Linked DNA regions of Homo sapiens: region 1 is linked to region 2. The links come from fine-mapping of genetic effects on gene expression. A gene starts in region 2. The other region holds a variant in brackets. All regions are shown on one strand. Distances are from middle to middle. Region 1 overlaps CAMK4 (calcium/calmodulin dependent protein kinase IV). Region 2 holds the start of SLC25A46 (solute carrier family 25 member 46).

The links.
Region 1: its variant is fine-mapped to the expression of SLC25A46 in monocytes (Fairfax 2014, PIP 0.95). The same link has a PIP of 0.9 or more in monocytes after LPS and monocytes after interferon gamma.

Annotation. Positions count from the first base shown.
Region 1 is chr5:111,469,979-111,480,810 of GRCh38, reverse strand. CAMK4 (calcium/calmodulin dependent protein kinase IV) reads right to left here. Exons shown (of 11, transcript NM_001744.6): 8 at 7,425-7,500; 9 at 2,304-2,430. Among named protein-coding and RNA genes, the nearest start is that of STARD4-AS1, 37 kb to the left of the region's middle. The variant A/G (reference allele first, on the strand shown) is at 5,124.
Region 2 is chr5:110,733,867-110,744,698 of GRCh38, reverse strand. It overlaps SLC25A46 (solute carrier family 25 member 46), which reads right to left and starts at 5,692. Exons shown (of 8, transcript NM_138773.4): 1 at 5,297-5,692; 2 at 2,610-2,652; 3 at 912-969. The coding sequence starts at 5,579. It also overlaps a transcript of TMEM232 not described here. RefSeq lists enhancers at 3,354-3,853, 3,854-4,355, 5,600-5,669, 5,680-5,809, 6,060-6,109.

The DNA of each region.
Region 1 (10,832 bases), 740 kb before region 2:
GAGGGCTAAATAAGATTACTATTATTAAGTTAGTTGATATTAGTTACTTAACATATATTATGTTCCTTAATTCTCACAACGACCTAGAGATAGGTACAATTATCATCCTAGATGAGAAAACTAAAGCATAGCAAGGTTAGATCATGAGCCTGAGGTTACACTTCCAGGACATGACAAAGGGGGCACTTAAATCCAGGTGTGTCAGACTCTGAAACTTCACGGTGTACTTCCAGATCCATTGTTTCATCCAATAAACATTTACTGAGTCAGTCCTATATGCCTATGTGGTTCTAAGGTCTGGGTACACACGCTTTGTCCTGCCCCAGAGCTTAAAATCTAATTAAGGAGGACCATTAAATATATAAGTGATGACTGTTATGAACTGGGGAGTGCAGGGGGTAAAGGAAGATTTTGGCAGAAGGAACCAACTATAGGTGGGAGGGACTGAAGGGGAAGGCCGACCATGCCTCCCAAGGGATATCTAGTGGCAGCTGGGGCTTGAGAATAAGAGTTACCCAGGGGTGTGTGTGTGTGTGTGTGTGTGTGTGTGTGTGTGTGTGTTTACATGCCTATGTGTAATGGAGAAGAAGGTGGGGAGGAAGAAAGAACATTACAGAGCAGAAGAGCCATGGCAATATCCTGAGCTATGCTGATGAGAAACTAGAAGTGTGGTGCACTAGAGTGAAAAGTGATCAAAGGGGAGAGATGTGAAGTGAGTGATGGCACAGGAGAGAGTGGCAGGCCCCAGACCAGGCAGCGTCATGTAGATCTTGTTATGGGTTTTGGATTTTATCCTAAGATTCTTAAAGCAGGACAAGGACATGATGCGATTTATTTATAAGACCATCCCTCTGGATCCTGTACAGACTGTATTTGAGAAAGGCATGAGAAGAGGCAGGGAGGTCAGATAGGAGGTTGGGGCAGTGGTCCGGGGGAGAGAACTGGATGGATTCAAGAGGTGTTTAGGAGCATGGGGTATGACTTGAGGAAGGAGTTGCAATGACATATTTATACATCACACATCACACACACTGACTTTCTCTTCCCACTCATGCTGGAAAAGCCATGAGCCTTAGGGAATCTGTTCCATGAAGGAACACAGAGGGTAAGGAAGAAATGCTTGAAGAAAAAAGAGCACAGGAAAGGGAGTCTGGACGACTGGATCAGCCCTAATAATGTCTTTCTGCTGGGAAGCTGTGTGACCTTAGCAGTCATTTCACCTCTCTGGTCTTTAGCATTCTCATCTTTAAAATGAGAGGAGGACTAGATGCCTCCTAAGACCTCTTCTATATCTAACCTTCTATGATTCAAAAGTCAGCTTTTGATTATGTCTGTGTGGTTGTTCTCTAGTGGATTGATGAGAAATGTTTCAATCTCATGTTAGCATCCTCTTTATTTTATAAGAGGTGAGTGACCTCCCCAGAAGGTATGGATTTCCTGAATGCAAACAAATGTCAATATTAACTTAAGTGAGAAGCAATGTAAAAACAAACAAACAAAATGAACTATTAACACAGTGGAACATTTTTATAATGCCAATGATGCATAATGGGACTTACGTTACTATTAGGATATTTTAATAAATTTGATGAAATTTCAGGAAGCAGTATTGTTTTACTTGAAGTATATCTAGGCTGGGTGCAGTGGCTCACATCTGTAATCCCAGCACTTTGGGAGGCCACAGTGGGAGGATCGCCTGAGGGCAGGAGTTTGAGACCAGCCTGGGCAACATAGCAAGACCCCATATTTCCAAAAAACTTTTAAAAATTAGCTGGGTGTGGTGGCATGCACCTGTGTCCCAGCTACTCAGGAGATGGAGGTGGGAGGATTGCTTAAGCCCAGGAGTTGGAGGCTACAATGAGCCATGATCATGCCATTACACTCCAGCCTGGGTGACAGTGAGACCTTGTCTCAAAAACAAAGAAACAAAAAAGAAATGAAGTACATCTAAATTCTAGGCAATTGCAAGCCATGTTAAAACAGAATTCTGTGTAAATTGTGTTTGAATTCACCCAGCACAGCTTTCTTCATAAGCAAGGTTTTTATACTTATAAGGTAGTAAAAGCTCATTAATACTGTAGTAATTGTAGTTTATGATAATTCAACTAGTGATGAGTCAAAAACATATCTAGTTTTTATTCTCTAAGGAAAATGTATTAATGAACTAATTTTATTAAAATACTTTAAAATTGAAAGAAAATATGGCATTAATATGGGTAAAATTTTAAAAAATTGTACTTCCCATTAATTAGTTAAAAATAAATTTATTTCATTTTGTTTCATTTTGTTTTGGTTACACTTACCAAGTCCTTGGCATTTAGAGATACTTCATCCCACCAGGGGGAGATAAAGTAATATTCACAATTCAGAATTCTCCTGAACATGAACTGATCGCCTCTTTCATCATAGAATGGTTCAAATCCACAAAGTCTAGAGGAATAAAATATAGAGAATAAAATGTCTTTAAAAGCTCAAGTATATTTCATCCAATTTCTGTAGGAATTCAGGACTGTTCTTTTTCACTGCTTCCTGCCATGGAAGCAAGTCTACTCAGCTTAAGTATGCAACTGCCTTATTACAATTCACTATTTATAGTGTAAACACACAATCAAGTCCTCAGGAAGTAGGAATTAATATAAAACCAACTTAGGATTTCTACAAAAAGCTATAATAATAATTATAATTATTGTGTAATAATAATTATTATTATAATTCTTATTACACAGAAGAACAATAATAATAATAGCTAACATTATAGACATTATGCTAAAGCCTTTCCATGGATTTTTTGACAGGTATTGAGAAGACAGACAGACAGGCAGACAGAGATTGAATAGACTTCCAATTTAGTGTGAAAGGGAAGAGCTGGGATTTTGAGAGTAAAGAAATTAAAAAGTGGAAATTAGAAATTTTCACTTATTTTTATTCTGCCCTATTCTATGAAATCCTCCATAGAAATGAGTAAAGCTTTATGACATTTCCATTCCATTCCAGTTTGGATTTCAGAGTGAACAAAGACAGAAGCTGAAACTATTGTCAGGCAATGACCTTAAAAAATGTATAAGATTAATATAGTCACCAGATGCAGCCAAAGAGATGAGCACCCTCAATTTACCTCATTCTTTGTATCATTTTCTACTATGGAGTCAACTTAAAAATGAATGGGAAAAGTGGGATAAAAGGGACGGAGAACTATCTTGGGCATCTTAACAAGAGAGAAAGGAAAAGCGAGTTGTTTGTGACCACCAAGCATCCACTGTTTACAGACGGGTGGAAGTTCTAAAATCAGTAGGGACCAAGAGGGAACTGCTTAAAAAAGCCCATGGCAGGGCATGTGTTGCATGTGTTCCATTTGAAAAAAAATGAGGGTGGGAGGGAGGATGAATAAAAGACATTTTCCCAAAGGCTTCACTCAAGCTGGCCAGGTTGGTACATAGCATGAAAAATTAAAGTGCATCCTAATACAGTGAGTTTTTAGAAAGAAGCAGTTTCGTATGTCCTTTTACTCACAGAATGTCCCACTGGGAGAATGTTTGTCTCTTCCAGATATTCTGGAGCCAGTGAGAAAAATGCAAGGCCTGACAGTGCAGACCCCTGGGCCAATGTGTTCTCCCTTTCCCTACTGAGCAGTCTGCACAGAGAATCCCGCTCCTGACCCACCTGTGGAAGAGCAGCCTAAGGTGAGACAGGGCACATGTCCTCACCCTGACAACGAGAGAGTCTGACCTTGCCTGCCCTGCCCTGCTCTCCACAACACTAGAAACCTATGGCCTGTTGCAGTTAGTCATGGAGAAATGAGCCAGCTTCCTAGACTTAGTTTAGGAGTTTCCTTATATTTCCCCTTCTGAAAATCTAGAGACAAAAATGACCACTGAAGAGTTATAGTGCTCAAATGCCTTTTCTCTCATTTCATTCCTATCAGTGACTTTTTGCTTTGGTGACAGAGGTAAAAGGTGACAACTTCAAGCCTTAGGGCAGAACTGTAGTGTTGAAAGCTGAAGGAGAGAGTTTGAATCTCTGATGTTATCTGATTTCTGATCAGATCATAAGGCCCAGTCCTGCAGCTTTTGTCTGTAGGGGAAGAGGGTTTAGGTATAAAAGGTAAAGATATGAGAATTCCTGGGAGGAAAAATAGAATGGCCTTCATTTTCAGCCTAATGGCATTCTTAGAAATAGCAAGGCCCCATCAATAGCCTGGTGGTGACAAGCTAGAACTCTTAAGAAGGAAAGAGTGGGCCATGCGCGGTGGGTCACACCTGTAATCCCAGCACTTTGGGAGGCTGAGGCAGGTGGAACAGGAGGTCAGGAGTTTGAGACCAGGCTGGCCAGCATGGTGAAACCCCATCTCTACTAAAAATACAAAAAATTAGCTGGGCATGGTGGCACGTGCTTGTAATCCCAGGTACTCGGGGGGCTGGAGCAGAAGAATTGCTTGAACCCAAGGCGGAGGTTGCAGTGAGCCGAGATCACGCCACTGCACTCTAGCCTGGGAGACAGAGCAAGACTTCATCTCAAAACACACACACACACACACACACAAACACACACACACACACACACACACACACACAAAGAAGCAAAGAGTGAAGTTAAAATGCAGCAGTAGCCACAAGAAGAGGGACAAAAGAGGTAACAGAATTCTTTACACTGATAGGAAGAATCCAATGTCTATTCATGGCTTTATTAAAAAAAAACAGCCCCAGAGTTTATGTACATACAGACAAGTATCAGTAAAGCAAATGCCTCAACATTTGGAAGACAGAAGAAAGAATCTGACTGAAGCTTATAACGTAGCTTCATTGTAAGATTTACTTTCCCAGGAAGCATTAACAAAATGGATCTTTAGTTCTAATTCTTCATTTGGTTACTTCTCTACTCTACTGTGTCTGTCTCCAAGCCACTCTGGTGAAATGAGTGAGATGTTAGAGGTCATAGTCTCAGGTGCCCAGCAGGCCACTAAATGTACATTAAACCAATCTAATAAAGAAGATACAGAGATCAAGTAGCACAACCCACCAGAGAAAATGTGCCAGTCGACCGTGCCAGTGGACTTCACCAATTATTAAAGAACTACAGAGTAAATAAAACGTCCTCAGGCTTAGGGCCTGACAGAAGTTAGCCAA[A/G]AACTAAAGAATATTAGTTGTAAGCAGCACTGTTATTTTCATTTTGGAGGCTACCACTCTTACTTTCAACTAAACCTATTAATTAATTACCTAAAGTGTATAAAGATAAAAGAAATATATAAAATAGTTTGCATAATTTGGTAATGGACTAGGGGATAGGACAGATTTTTAGAACTATCTTCAGGGTTACAATAAAATATTTCTCAAGTAATTATATTTTTCCCTTCATTTTCCCATGTCAGTGATATCATTAAGTTTTATGCATTCCACATTCCAATTTTTCTGGGTAAATGTAACTTAATTTCCTACTTCCATCTCTCCAAGTTCTTTCATATCATTAATACTTAATGCCTCCCAGTACATTTCAACAATGTACCTACCAATTGTTGGTACACTGGTACCTAAATTGGGTATATTTATACTTTAGGGGCAAACCTACATTTTGGGGACAAAAACAGGATCTTTATCTCTCCAAATTCCTCTCAAGCTTTTCTTTTTCTTTTGTTTTGTTTTGTTTTGTTTTTGTTTTTGAGTCGGAGTTCTATCACCCAGGCTGGAGTGCAGTGGCAAGATCTCAGCTCACTGCAATCTCCGCCTCCTGGGTTCACGCCATTCTCCTGCCTCAGCTTCCCGAGTAGCTGGGACTACAGGCGCCCACTACCACACCCTGCTAATTTTTTATATTTTTAGTAGAGACGGGGTTTCACCACGTTAGCCAGGATGGTCTCGATCTCCTGACCTCATGGATCCACCCGTCTCGGCCTCCCGAAGTGCTGGGATTACAGGTGTGAGCCACTGTGCCCGGCCCCTCTCAAGCTTTTCTAAAGACACAAGGAATTGAGCACACAAAATATCTTTTTGTATTACATATTAGTGGATGGCTATTTTATCAGTTGCTTGTTAAACCTTTCTGTCTTGGCGATCAACCATTGTATATCAGGTAAATTAGAGTTTGCTAACGTGCTTGTGGGCCCTACCACAGTTAGCCCATTCCTAGTCCATATCACCTGGATATTGAATTTTTTAAGATCACTATTAAGTTAAAAACAACTTTAATTAAAAGCATTCTGCTACGGACTGAATTGTATTCCCCCCTCCAACCCCAAAATCCATATGTTGATGCCCCAGCTCCCAATGAGATAGTATTTGGAGATGGAGCCCTTGGGAGGCAATCAGGTTTAGATGAGGTCATGAGAGTGGGGTCTTCCTCATGGGATTAGTCCCCTCATAAGAAAAGAGTACACAGAGCTTGCTTTCTCCTTCTCCCCATCATGTGAGGACACCGTGAGAGGGCGGCCATCTGCAAGCCAAGAGAGGGCCCTCAGCAGAAGCTGACTGTGCTGACACTCTGGTCTTGGACTTCCAGCCCCCGAAAACTGTGAGAAAATAACTTTCTGTTATTTAAGCCACCCAGTCTATATATTTTGTTATGTAAGCCCAGGTAGACTAGTATACCTACTTTCAAACCCTTCAAAATTTCTCTAAATTGGAATATTATGCATTCCAACAACTAACTTTGTAGTACTCTCTAAATGGCAACTAAGTCTCCTTGTTTTGAACTAAACTCTTGAAAGCATCGATATCTTATTTTCTAGTTGTTCTACAGTATTCTTCCATCTCAGACGCTCTTCTATTTGGTTGATTTTTTTCATCACCACCTGCAGTTCCACCATGTCTTTGGCAAATTTCATGAAACTCCTTATTTCTTATTAGACAGGAGCTCAGGAATGGATGTGGGGATACCAGGGATTAAAATATTTCACTCATTTTTTTTCCCAAGAAATTTGTGTAGGGTGTTAAATTTAAGACCCTTGAAAACCTAACAGAAATAAGAAACAAAATTGATAGCTAAAAATGCATTTAAAATATTCCTGATAAGAAATATACCAGTTTGGAATTGCTTAAGAAATTAAATAGTCATTTGCCCATTTAAAAGGACTAAATCTAATAATTTCATATAAGATGCAAATAAGTAAAACAAGAGCAAGTTTACACAGCTGGTCTTGGGCTCATATTCTTTACTAGTGTCAAGTAATAAACTGTTCCCTAAATCTGCTGTATATTACATAGTGGATATAGACATAGGAAAGCCCTGGACAAGAATTCCGGTCTCAAGAAAATTCCAAAATAAAAAGCAATGTTCATTTTCAGGAAATTCTATCACTAACTGCATTTAGTATGTAACAGAAAATCACAAAAAGGCAAAAAGTAATCTTTATGGTTTTTATGAGCATTAGAGGTATCTAGAAAATGTCACAGCAAGGTAAATAGTTTACATAAATATTGCTTTTCTTCACTTACAAGATGTAGGTGATTATTCCTACAGACCACATGTCCACCTCAGGTCCATAGGCACAACCTCTAAGAATTTCAGGTGCTGCAGAAAAAGTGAAAATTGTGTTAAATTAGAGCTTAGTCAATATTTATATTTTAATATCAAGCAATGGGAAAGAAATAAATTCATCAAAACAATTTCTGAACAGTTTTATAACCAATCTTCTCTCCCCAAACCACAGTATGAAGCTATAAATACTTATGTCTATTTTAGTAGGAGAGATTATAGTCTATCTGTTTTGGGATGCATAAAATAACACTATTAACTTTAATATTCTATGTCAGAATATCATGATACTGCTCAAATCAAGTAGATAGAGCTGTATGTATGCTACAAAAGACGCAATACTTCAAAGGGAGTTTTGTACATAGAAAACAAAGAAATGAAAGTTAAGCATAACAAGGGAGAAAAAAGTCACAAGCATGCTGCCTTGAGATCTAGACCTGCTGGGAGCAGGGTGTGTCAGCGAGTGTGTGGGTCTGACAGTGTGCAGGGTGGGAACCAGTGTAGGTGGTGAGGAGGGTTGACAAGTATCTAGTCTAGACGGTTGCAGCAGGAGCTAGGAGGTGTCCTGGCACATGTCCTGGCATTGAGAGATGCATGTAGGTCTCCAGAGAGCAGCTGATCCCAATCAGCTTGAGGTCATGAACTGAGAAAGGGGAACTTATCTGTGCACAGTGAAGCAGCTTGTATTAGTTCTGCCCGCTGTTGTGAAAAAGGAAGGCTTTCTCAGCCATAAAATAGCCCTGGTGTGGAGAATAGCAGTATCTTTTATATTTTTATTACCTTAGATTTGTGAAAATGGGTAATTAACTGGATCCAGGCACTTTCCCTGAGTACTAAGGGTGTTATTTGTTTGCCTAATTAACAACAGAAGAAAAGGGAAAGTAAGAGCCCCACCATCTATGGAGAAATAGAGCTCAGGCCTATTGTCCAGAGTGGCCTTTCTTGATTTTGAACACAAGTGCGGCAGGTGCCAGCAGCGTACTTGAAGAAGGAGCTTCTTGATTAATGCTGATGGCTGCTTGAGGAAGGCCTTGGGGATGAGGACACCATACCATTCTCTGGGATAGGGGTTGGAATGCAAGTAAACAGGATTCTCTGTCCATGCTGGCTGGAAATGTCACATTCAGTGTTGCCTATCAAGATGAGCTCTGGGGCTGGGCACAGTGGCTCACACCTGTAATCCTAGCACTTTGGGAGATCGAGGCAGGTGGATCACCTGAGGTCAGGAGTTTGAGTCCAGCCTGGCCAACATGGTGAAACCCTGTCTCTACTAAAAATACAAAAAAATTAGCCAGGCATGGTGGTAGGTGCCTGTAATCCCAGCTACTCGGGAGGCTGAGGCAGGAGAATAGCTTGAACCCAGGAGGTGGAGGTTGCAGAGATGGCGCCGCTGCACTCCAACCTGGGCAACAGAACAAGACTCTGTCTCAAAAAATAAATAAATAAATAAATAAATAAGTGAGCTCTGGAGGGAGGCTATCCTCATGGGACTGTGGATTTACCATACAGGAAGGAATACTGTGGGCATTCCACTGACCTCTTCCCTAACTATCCCTTAACTCTCATCATGTTCCAATTTCCCTGTAGAAGCTGGGTTACATAAAATATGAGGAGTCTTCAAAAGGTCATGGTAAATGCATATTATAAAAAATTATGCATGAATTTCACAATTTTTTGTACCAAAATAAACTTGTACTAACTTGTCATAACATGTCCAAACAGGATCTAGTCTGAGACACTAAAAAGGCTAAGACTTCAGTTTGAAAAGAGCCTCTATCTGAGAAACATGAATTCTGCTAAAATTGAAGCAAGAACAAACATCAAATTTATGGTAAAGCTTGGGTGGAAGAATGGCGAAATCACTGAGGCTTTATAAAAAGTTTGTGGGGACAATGTTCTAAAGAAATTAACAGTATACAAGTGGATAACTCATTTTAAGAAGGGATAAGACAATGTTGAAGACAAAGCCCACAGTGGCAGATCATCCACATCAATTTTTGAGAAAAAAATAAATCTTGCTCATGGCCTAATTGAAGAGGACTGGCAAGAGCAGAAACAATAGTCAACATCACAGACATCTGTGAGTTCTGCTGACACAATTCTGACTGAAAAATTAAAAGTTGAGCAAAGTTTTCACTCGATGGGTGACAACACTGTTGCATCCAGATCGATGCAGACAAAAATAGAGCTTTCAATGGAAATTTTAAACAAGTGGGATTGAAATCCTGAGCCTGATTCTTCAAACAATTGTTACAGGAGATAAAACATGGCTTCAACAGTATAATTCTGAAGACAAGGCACAATCAAAGCAATGGCTACCAAGAGGTGGAAGTGGTCCAGGCTAAGCAAAAGCAGATTGGTAAAGAGCAAGTGTCATGGCAATGGTTTTTTTGGATGCTCAAGGCATTTTGCCTGTTGACTTTCTGGAGGGCCAAAGAAAAATAACGTGTTTCATATGAGACTGTTTTGAGAGAGTTAGCCAAAGCTGTAGCAGAAAAATTCCCAGGAAACCTTCACCAGAGAATCCTTCTCCACCACAAAAATGCTCATGCTCATTCCTCTTATCAAACAAGGACAATTTGATGAGACTTTCAATAGGAAATCATTAGGCATCTACCTTACAGTAGTAACTTGGTTCCTTCTGACTTCTTTTTGTTTCTTTATCTTAAAATTTCTATAAGGAACACTTATTGTTTTTTCAGTTAATAATGTAAAAAAGACTGCATTGACATGGTTATCCCTCAGTTCTCTAGGGATAGACTAAATGGCTGCTGTTATCACTTACAAAAGTCTCTTGACCTTGATGCAGTTTATGTTGAGATATAAAGTTTATATTTTTCATCATTTTCACCATTTTTTGACAAACTTTTTGAAGTGCTCCCTATATGAGATAAAGAACCTGTATGGTGAAAGGAAGGTGTGCATTCTAGCACTCTACACAGCAATTCAGCAAGATGCACCCTTTAAGGAACTGTATCTGTAGCCAAAAAGCTTTTTTTAATCTACAGATGAATTATTCCTAGAAAACTTTTCTTTTAAGGTTTAATTAACAAAATTAAGAAACATGCATGGCTGATACGAACTACCATCATTCACTCTGTCAGGTTAGCTTTCATTCTCTGGGGCAATCTGTACCCCACAGAAAGTGTCTTTGAGCACAACAGCCCTGACAGTGAACTTTCCCTTGTAAAGGGGAACTCAGATTATGCTGCCATTGCAGGAAGGCTGCTATTGCCTATTTTTGTCTCTAGGAGATGTTCCAGTCAAGGAGCCGAATGCACACATATTGAGCATGCATATTCCACTTGCATTAGTCCTTCTCCATGCAGGTCTTCACATCAGTGAATCTTATTCAGTCTGAAATGCTA
Region 2 (10,832 bases):
TAAAACAAAAATAAATAACAGTATTTACTGTCAATGATAAGTTTGAATTTTCAACTAAAACTCAGAATTTTGGAAAATCTATATGCATCGTCAAGAGCTGACAATACTTATAGACTTTTCTAGTGAGATCAGTAGTATTTTTAATGAAGATGATTTTTTGATATTTTATAATCAAATGTTTTAACAACAGGAAGATCTATGTAACTCAATTGGTCAATATTTTTCAAATAACTTATGCACAATTACATGGAATCAGGCATAAGTAAAAATATCTATTCAAGATGCAGTATAGTTAAATGGATTTTTTAATGTAACAAAGTATAAAAAGTTCACTAAAATGATTTCTGATTTCACATTGCAAATAACCTTTAAGAAACTGCGACACAGTGAGTTTTGGTGCAATTGCAAAGAATACCCACAATTATCTCAAAAGAATATAATATACTCCTCTCCTGCTTTCAACTATACATGTGTACAAGACTAAACTTCCTTGCTTCTTTCAAAAACCACGTGATGCAACAGATTGACTGCAGAAGCATACGAGAGAAACTGGCTCTCTCCTATTATGTCAGATATTAAAGATATTTGCAAAAATGCAAAATAGTTACTTTCATAAAAACATATTATCTTACTAACAGGTGTTATTATTTTAATGAATTATATAGATGCATTGAAATTTTCCCAATTTTAATTTCTGAAATGGTAACTATCAATAGATATGACCAACATAAACCAAAGTTATTTAGGATCCTCAATATTTTTTTAAGACTTTAAAGAGGTTTTGAGACCAAAAAGTTTGGAACATTTCACATGAAGTAACAATTACCTGGTTTCATGTCATTTATGTGAGTTCTGCCCTTCATATTAGGGTCAGAAGTATTGCTTCAAAAGATCACAGAAATTACATTTACCTGACATTGGCGGCGTAGAACAATGCAAGGATGTGCCAATACATTTTCTGTAAAGAGACTATATAAAAATAATTTATGTATATGTATGTCTACATAGAGATAAATTAAATTTACAACAGGTATCTTTCTGAAATTATTCTTGCCTGAAGAATCATGCATTATTTTATGTTTTCCATTCTTAAACAAATTAAATAGATCTTTAAAAATGTCTAGAAATGTTTGCAAATGATTCTACCCATAACGAAATTCAATATGAAAAGAATGAAAACCAGATCTGCATACTAGTAAATAAGGGAAACAATACATAATACATAATATTAATGTCTATAGTATAAGATGAAACTAGATCTCTGAATGTTTAATGTGGGAAATGGCACATCAATTAAATGGCATTTAATGCTGCAAATTATTTCTTTCAGAAAATGTCCTAATAACAGAATTCCTATCAGCAGAGTCATTTGATCTTCATGAACCCCATTCTAAAAATGTTTGGTTTTGGTGCACTTAAATTATAAGGTTTAAGTATAAATTTAAGTATAAATCTTAAATTATAAGATTCTTAATGACCATGTTAATTGACTAATATTTATGTATCAAATATTTATTTTGAGAATGTGCCCCACAAAACAATTACAGCTGTGGGTTTCAGGTCTCAGAGTGACATATACATACATGTGCACACATATTTATATGTAATAATAGTCTATCAAATGAATCAAAGCTTTAAGTATAAATATTGAAGCAAAAAACAACTCCAGCAGAATGGAAAACACAGATTTTATTTATATTGACATTAACACCCTCGGGTTTAATTATGCAAATAAGGTGTTTTTCTTCGTTAAAATGTTTAAAATAATGATCATTATGGCATGAAATGTAAGCTTTGTGCAATTCCAATATTTTTGAAAATGGTATTCACTAAGGATCACAATAATCAAGACTAAAGGATTTTCTTAAAATGATCGTTAGATATAAAAAAAAGTAATGCTATCACCAAACGCTGATTATGAACAAAATCTAGATGCTATGTTGCTAAATATCTTGTAAGCATTAGAGTGTTTAGAAAGAAGCCTCCATGCACAATTACTTTTTTGATGGGAGACAGACAGATTACATTTCATTTTATTCTTTGGATAGACCCATGAAAAGAATGAAAACCAGATCTGCAAACAGGTAAGTAAGGGAAACAATATATAATACACAATATTAATATCTACGGTATAAAATGAAACTAGATCACTGTATGTTTGATGTGGGAAATGACACGTCAGTTACATGGCATCATTAAATGCCATGTAATTTTTCTTTCAGAAAATGTCCTATGAAAAAAGTTCTTATCAGCAGAGCCATTTGATCTTCATGAACCCCATTCTAAATTATTATTTTGATGGGAGAGAGATAAGATTACACTTCATTTTATTTTTTGGATAGACCCATGAAAACAGTTACAATACTCATTACAAAATTACTTTGTGTTTATAAAATTGGATGACTAGTCTATCCTTACTGGAAAAACTATCAAATTATATATTTTAAATAATGGTCATTTTTTTTCTGCAAAATATTATTCAAAATTTAAGCTGCTGCTTCAAAGAAACAACCTAAAGGAAGCAATAATAATCATTTAATATTGTAAATTAAAGAAAAACTCTAAATTCAATAAATAAAAGCTGTAAACGTCTTTAGATAAAACATTACCTTGCAAGTCCAATACCAAATCCAGCAAATCTATTCAGCTGTTCTAAAGTAAAAAAAAATAGAAATAAAAAAATAAGATTACTGATAACCAATTACTGACAATTTAGGTTTAGTCTCAAAACAATTTTAAAAAATTTATTTTATTAACCTGCTGTTCATTTAAACCTCAAAGTCAAATTCTGATAGGGGCCAGGTAAATAATTTAAATGAATGAAGGACTCTGCTGGGGTCTGTGGCAAATTGCAAGGTGTAGAGTGTTTAAAGCACAATTACGCTTTCACTCCAATTCATTGTTGCCACATTAGAGTGTGGGCCCAGGGTTTTGAAGTTGTAATTTTTTCAAAAAAAGATATTCTCATTTTATATAAAAGCTTCCAATTTTAAAGTCCTGGACAACTATTTCAAAAACTGTTAACACATTGTCTTGGCCTAATGAAACAAATATCCGGACAGAACCTAAGGGCTACCAGTTTTCAGCTTCTGATTCCAATCAAATAAAAAATTTTCCATGGTTGGCCGCAGCTGATATTCCACCTGCGACTTTACCTCTTATGCTGTAAAACTAGTTATTCACTGTTACTGACGGAGAGCACTTTATTAAACCAATAACTACAAGTAAAGCACCTCTAAATTATTAACTTGAAAGGGTACTTAGGGATAACCAAAATGGGTAAATACAGCTCTCCCCCATCTCTTCAAGTTTTAAATAGTTTGAGGCTAGCTGTTTAATTAATTGGAGTAGGTTACTGGATACCTAAATGCTACTACAGATGGTATGTCTGTTATGTTACTGGAAAAGTTCACAGCTGGGAACATTCCTATGCATATGTCAAAAGAGAAAAGCCTTTCTTCTTGACTAAACTCAAAGTCATAGTGGTGAACTATTACAACCCCAGGGGACCAGACATCAAATTCTAACTATAATACAATATTCACAAGTTACAATTCTTTCTCTCCTCTTCTCTTTCAAGTGAAGCAACTGCCCTCACTATTCCCTTTCAATCAGAACAAGGCCACCTAAGCATGTTCCTGGGAAATTACGCAGTTTACCCTAGAAAAATGTATAAGCTAAATAGAAAGCTTCTTTTACCCACCTACGGTACTTTTACCTTAGATTTTACCTTTTTTTGTTTGTTTTGAGACGGAGTCTCGCTCTGTCGCCCAGGCTGGAGTGCAGTGACGCGATCTCGGCTCACTGCAAGCTCCGCCTCCCGGGTTCACGCCATTCTCCTGCCTCAGCCTCCCGAGTAGCTGGGACTACAGGCATCCGCCACCACGCCCGGCTAATTTTTTCTATTTTTTAGTGGAGACGGGGTTTCATCGTGTTAGCCAGGATGGTCTCGATCTCCTGACCTCGTGATCCGCCCGCCTTGGCCTCCCAAAGTGCTAGGATTACAGGCGTGAGCCACCACGCCCGGCCTTACCCATTTTGTATGTATAGATCATCCCCAAATAGCAACAGAAAATGCTACTAGCATTTTCTGGAAGGTGTTAGGAAGGTTTAATCTTGTTTACTGTGTAAGTCTCTTAGGTGTCTATCTTTGTTGCAAAATTAACATTCACCCACCTGTTAAGGCTGCAAAATAAACCCCTGCTTGTGTCAAGGAACTCCTCCTCATTGTAACCACCAAAGCATAACTTTAAACCGGGAAGAGTCAAAAAGCTAATTGTATGACAATTAGCTAGGTAAGTCATCTATCTTTCTTCACATCCTCATTTACTCACTAGACATTCGTTAGTCTGTTCTTCTTAGTTAAATATTATTGTACTTCCAAGTCAAAGTCGAGGAAATAAGAATAAAGCTGATTTCTACAATAAATTTAATATTAATACCATTAATCTATTATTCTAACAATTCCAGAAGAATAGAAAGAGGTAGCCATTATTCACATTTTATGAATAAAAAAGGATGTTGAAAATATCTACATCATGCAGTGTTGCAGCTTTTCTGACATCCCATGGAGAATAATTATGTCATGATTCCGAAGTCCTATCTTGAAATTGTATCAGTGTTTCTAACTTTTATATGTAGTTTTTAGGTCAGCAGAAGGAAAGCAGAAAGGAAAATTATAGGAAGGAAACTTTCTAGACTGGGGATCTGAAAAGCAGACAAAACTCCTGTGTTCAAAAAGGAAAAGGAAGGAAACTTTTTTTTTTTAGCCTATGTGTCCCATACAGGATTCTTCTACACATCTTAAAGATGAGAAAACTGAGGGCTCACAGAGGTTAAGTTGTTCAGATTACGAGTGGCACAACCAAGTTTGAACCCAAGTATGCTTATGCTGAAAGGCTTCTCTTTTCAGAACACAAAACTACAAGTAAACACATTAATTAATTAATTAAATCAAGAAAATAGAGCTGCCAAAGTGAATCAGGGAACAGTTAATAATCCAATCTCCTTTTTAACTCAGACCATCAGTTGAGACACCAAAACCTCTAAAAATTCCTGCTATGCACCCCATAGCTAAGGCAGATGTCTTTTTTGGAGTTGATCCAGGAGAATTCGTTTGTGAGGAAGAGGAGGCCAGCCTCAGGGGCAGAGGACCAAAGGAGGGCAAAGGGTGTGGCGCGCGATAGGATGAGAAGGAATAGGAGGCGGGATCCTCTGCGCCGCTTCCGGGGTCTGCAGGCCGCAAGCCGCGGCCCCAGTAACCCCTCATCCCTGTGTCGGTCCCCATGCTTCTCACCACTGCTCTGCCCCTGCACACTGCCGCCGCCGCCACTGGAAAAGGGTTCCTCCGTGGGGCCTTCGTACGGGGTGGAGGTGGTGGGCACGCCGTAGGGCGGGCTCTTCTCGCCCCAGTGCAGGTTGCGGCTGCCGGGGATATCTGGGGGAGTCGTCACCCAGTGGCCCAGGTCCGACCCGGTGCTGAAGGACCTTGCAGGGAAGGCGCCGCCAAAGCCCTGCTCGTCCCGGGCACCACCCCGGTAGCCCAAGCCATCAAATCCGTCCGGGCGCCGCGGATGCATCGCAGCGGGGGCAGGATGACGCGAGCCCGCCCGGAGCCCACCACCACCGGGGCCACCACGACCTAAGCACACACAGCTTCCCGTCGGCCGCCGCCGCGTCAGGGGTAAATTCTGACAACCGGAAGTCACGTTGGAAACCCGGAAGTCTTCGGAGCACGTGATTATAGCCTCTTCCGGCAACCATTAAAGGGCACGGTTGCTAGGGAGACGCGGCGGTAACCTGGACCTTAAAAGTTTGTTGTCGTTAGGGAATAGGTGGGAATATGGTTGTGGGATTAATGAAACACAGTACCAAAGAGATTCCAGAAAGAGAACTGGTGTAGGAATAGGGCCTGCATGGGAGGAGTTCAAAGATGCTTCTTGGAGGGAGCCGATAACCCGCGGGTGGAGCCTACCCGGTGAGATCCCGGCCAGAAATACCCCATGTCACAGCTACGCCCCAGATCTCAGTGTTTTCTCACGGGCCTGGTGCCTCGCCTGCTCCGAGGAAGCTAGTAGAGGTTGGAGTTGTGGAGGGTTAATAACGTTCCACCTAGCTTTGTCTCCCGCACTTGGGGTTTTGGATCAAATCTATTGAGAGATATGGTACCGCCCAGTGAACGCGAAAGTACTGTGGACCACCAGAGCAAGCATTTTAAAAGTTGAAGTGCACGTCGGGGGTGAAAGAAACCCACGTACTCGAATACTGTCCTCCTGGAGTTAGAAATTACGCGTTTTCCTTTTCTAAGGCTGTAAAGAAACTATAGTTTTCTGTCGTATTTTTTTCTGATGTGTCTAAATCACTCAGGGTATTGAAATCCCAGTTATATCGTTCAAAATTGGGACCTCTAATTGAATAACTGAGAGGACTACTGTAGAGCGTCCCCTACTACCTGTTTTCATTAGCTCCACGGGCTCTTGGGCCAGGCTCCCTCCCCAGATCTGAGGAAGACTTCCATGGTTTCATCCTATGTTCCTTCAACTCGTTGGAAGCCCAGGATTCCTAGAGCTTTTCCAAGAGAACTCTGACGTGCAGTTCTCGATCTTCCAGATGCGAACCTTGATTGAGAGTGATAATCAACTTTGTTTTGATTGAACTGACATTTTTTTCTGTGGTTTTATCACTTTTTATTTTTTATGGGTGTATAGTAGGTGTATATATTTATGGGTTACATGAGATATTTTGATAGCGTACATTAAAATGTATAATTAACATTTTTAAATAACGAATTGACATTCTTAAATTTGATTGCGATGCAGCTTGGGCAAAGGTGTTGAGTCTCTTGACTGTATAAAATTTAAATGTCCATATAGTAAATTTTAAAATATATAGTAATCACAATTGAAAGGCAAATCACAAACAGAAAAATGACATTTTAACATGGTTTAAACAATGGAACAGTAGCTTTAATGTACAAAGAGTTCATACCAATGAATAAAGGCAAATCAGAAATATGAGCAAAGGACATGTAGAGGCAATTCATACAAAAAAAGGAAGTGTAAATAGATAATATCATATAAAAAGTCCTTTACTAATTGAAAAAAGGTAAATCTTAATTATCTTTCACGTATTAAGGTGTTTAAAAGGGAAAATGCACATTGTCTTTCCAGGTGAGAAGAAAGTAGCTTTCATTAATTTCTGAAGTGATATAAAACATAACTTTCTGATGGAGAGCAGTTTGGCACTATGTATCAAAAACTGTAAAAATAACCATATTTTTTGACTCCAAAATCTTAGAAAACAAATATAGGGGTTTTTTACATGTTTCTGGCATGGATAACATACATATGTTTATGGCATGCTTGCTCATAATAGGAAAAAAATAAGCAGGAATGCAAATATCAAATAATTATTATTGATTAATAATTTATTATTTAAAGTGTATATCCATACAGTTGTTTAACAAAAATATATTTATTAAGCACCTATCTCGTGTCAGATACTATTTTAAGCAATAAGGATAGAATGATAAATAAGCCAGACAAGGTGCTTGCATTGTTAGAACTGACATTCTAGTTTAGGGAGACAAAGAACAGATAAATATATCCTGTCAAATATAGTGCAATGTCAAATAATGACATGATTGTATTAAAAAAGCCTAAGTGAGCAATAAAGGAAGCTTTTTTTTTTTTTTTTTAGAATAAGGAAGTCCTCTCTGAAGAAGTGACCTTTGAGCAGAGAACTGAATGAAGTGAGGGAGTGAGCCATTTGTGAATATGTGGGAGAAGTTTTCCAGGCAGAGCTGAGCAAGAGAAACGCCCCGATAGCAAACTAGGTAGCCAGTGAGAAAGGGTGAAAGTGATAGGAAATGAGAGCTGAAAGGAGGCTAGGTGCCAGATCTTGCAAAGCCTTGTCGGTGGTGAACAAAATTTAGGTTTTTTGAGAGTAGAGGAGTAATGTGACTGTATTGATGTTTTATAGGAATCCACCTGGCTCTGTATGGGGAAGAGTAAAGGCTTCCACCTACTAAAGGCAAGCAGCTGAGGCAAAAAATAGTAATAATTTCATCTCGAGTGATAGTGTAATGGAGATGAGAAGGGTTTAGAGTGAAGATGTTTATAGATTACATTAGAGATGAGTATTAAATGACATGAAAATATTCATGTTCAATTTAAAACATGTACAGTATGAACTTACCTTTTAAAAATTCTACTAAAGATACACAATAGAAGAATGTGCTAAAATGATAGTATTATGTCTGAGCACGGGCTTGCATAGTTTCACTTTTTATTTAATTGCTCTAAAAACTTAGCTTTTTTTTGTAAGAAGAAAAATTATTTTAGAAAAAAATTAGAGCAAATTTGGTTATGGGCAGACACAGCAATAAAGATCTTTCTAGATTACTAAATCTGTTCATATCATTTAATCAGTAGTCTCTAGAGCACTATGAAAGCTCTATCATCCTGTATTTCTCCAAAATATTTCTAAAATAATTATGCTGAAATCGTCCAGAGTTTATTGCTTCAAACTAGTTTGAGAAACTCATAACACAGGAATTAAAACATGAATTTATAAAGTGGCCAATGCATTTTATGAAAACAACAGAATGTTTGTATTAGTTTCTATTGTGGCACAATGAATTACCCCCATAACAAATTGGGCAGCTTAAAACAACATTTAATATCTCATAGTTTCTGTAATTTAAAAATTTCAGAGTGGCTTCGCTGGATAGTTCTGCCTTAGGTTTCCCATGAGGTTCTAGTTAAGACTTCTACTTGGAATGCAGTCATTTTAGACATGACTGAGTTTGATTAGGGCTGGAGGATCCCCTTCTAAGATCTCTTACTCAGACAGCTATAGAAAGAATGTCTTTATTTCTTGCTGATTGCTGTTAATGAGGTTTCAATTCCTTGCCACATGAAGTTCATAGAACATCTTGAATGTCCTTATGACTTAACAGCTGGGAGACAGACAGCAAGGGGGAAACACAATGTCGTTTATGACCTAATTACACCTCATCACTTCTGCCATGTTCTATTTTTTTGGAAGAGAGTCACTAAGTCCAACCCTGCACTTAAAGGGGAAGAGGATTTGACTCTATCTTTTAAAGGGAGGATTATCAAACAATAGCATTTATATCATTAAAATGACTAAAATATTAAATCACTATATAACAATTAATGGGTGGAGGATATTATTAGGCACCAAAACTAATAATAAGGAAATTTTTAGCCCAAATATTAACAGAATAATATAGTTTTTTACTTTGTTCCTTAGTAAATAAAGGATTAATTTTCCTTGAAAATAATATGATAGAAATAGTATAACCACCCCCCAACGGGCTTAATACATATTTTCGAAAGTCCAGTCATTATTATTGTTGAGTTGAAATACAAATGAAAAGTTGCAGATTGTTTCAACAGTTTTCAAGAGTTGGCACAGAATGCTATGGTCCTACCAAACAAAAGTGCCTGTGCAGAGCAAGCAAGTCATTCATTTATGTTAACATTTTGCTCAAAAATTCTGATGCTAAATAAATTCAGCTCACAGGATAAAATAAAAATCACCTATATTTTTTATTCAAGAATTCACTCAGCAACATATATTAAGCACCTACTATGTGTAAACCACTGTATTGGGTACTGTGATGCAACTATACACTATTTTATTTATATCTTTTTTAGAGACAGGGCATCACTGTGTTGCCAAGGCTGGTCTTGAACTGGCTCAAGCAATCTGCCCACCTCGGTCTCCCAAAGTGCTGGGATTACAGGAGTGAGCCACTGCGCCCTGCCTGGTAAGTATTTTAAAAGGTGAAATTTAGTAATATTTTAAATATTTTACATGTAAAATAACTTGAAATAAGCAATTTTAAAAATATCTTTCAAACAATAGAGGTGTTTTTGTTTTCTTTTGTTTTTGTAAAATGATGTGATATAACAATCCACTATGGTGCATTTGATCCTGATTACATTGTTAGGGAAGTTAGGCAAAGCATATTTAACATCTACACACTTAATGGGACACACACAGTAAATGGAAGCAACCAAGAATATTTTAAATTGTGAATTGGGTATAAATTTTCTTAATTGCCGAGTTTATTCTTTTTCTACTTGATAGGCTATAGCATTTATGTTCAGAAGATGGTGATTCCCGAATTATTGGACTTAATTTTTCATCCCTCTACCATAGTATTATACTGTATGTCCATACCCTTGTCATAGCCTCATGATGGGCAGAGTGGACTTTCCTGCCCTTTGGGTAGTTGGTAGAGTGATATCCTTGGGCAGAAAGGTGTTAGTTAGCAGGTGTGACCCAAACAGAGGCTTTGCTCAGTTGGCTTGCCCGCTTGGGCTTCTGCCATAACCATGAGAAGCACCTCCTGAATAACCACTACCCCTTCACTCTGGGCTCCAGAAGGAGATATTTGGAGCAGACCTGAACCCAGCTGGAATTCTGGGGACAATCCCAGGTGAACCCAGCCAACATCACCAAAATCTAGCCAACCTGCACGCAGAGGAGTGAATGAGAAAAATAAATACTTGTATTTTAAACCACTAAGATTATTTTGGTGATAGGTGACTAACATGATGCTTATGCAGAATTTTAATTGAATTTTATTTTTAAAGTGTCCACTGTAGGATTAAATACTATCATCACAAACATGTCAACTAACTGTGTAAGAGAAATTTTATCTTTTAGTAAGTTTAAAAATGCTGTGAAAATTAACCCATTGGTACAAGAAATAATCTGAGTAAATGCAATATAAATTTCTTAAAATCTTGCTTTATCTTCTTTAACCTCTACTGGATTTTTATAAGTTGAATGACCAT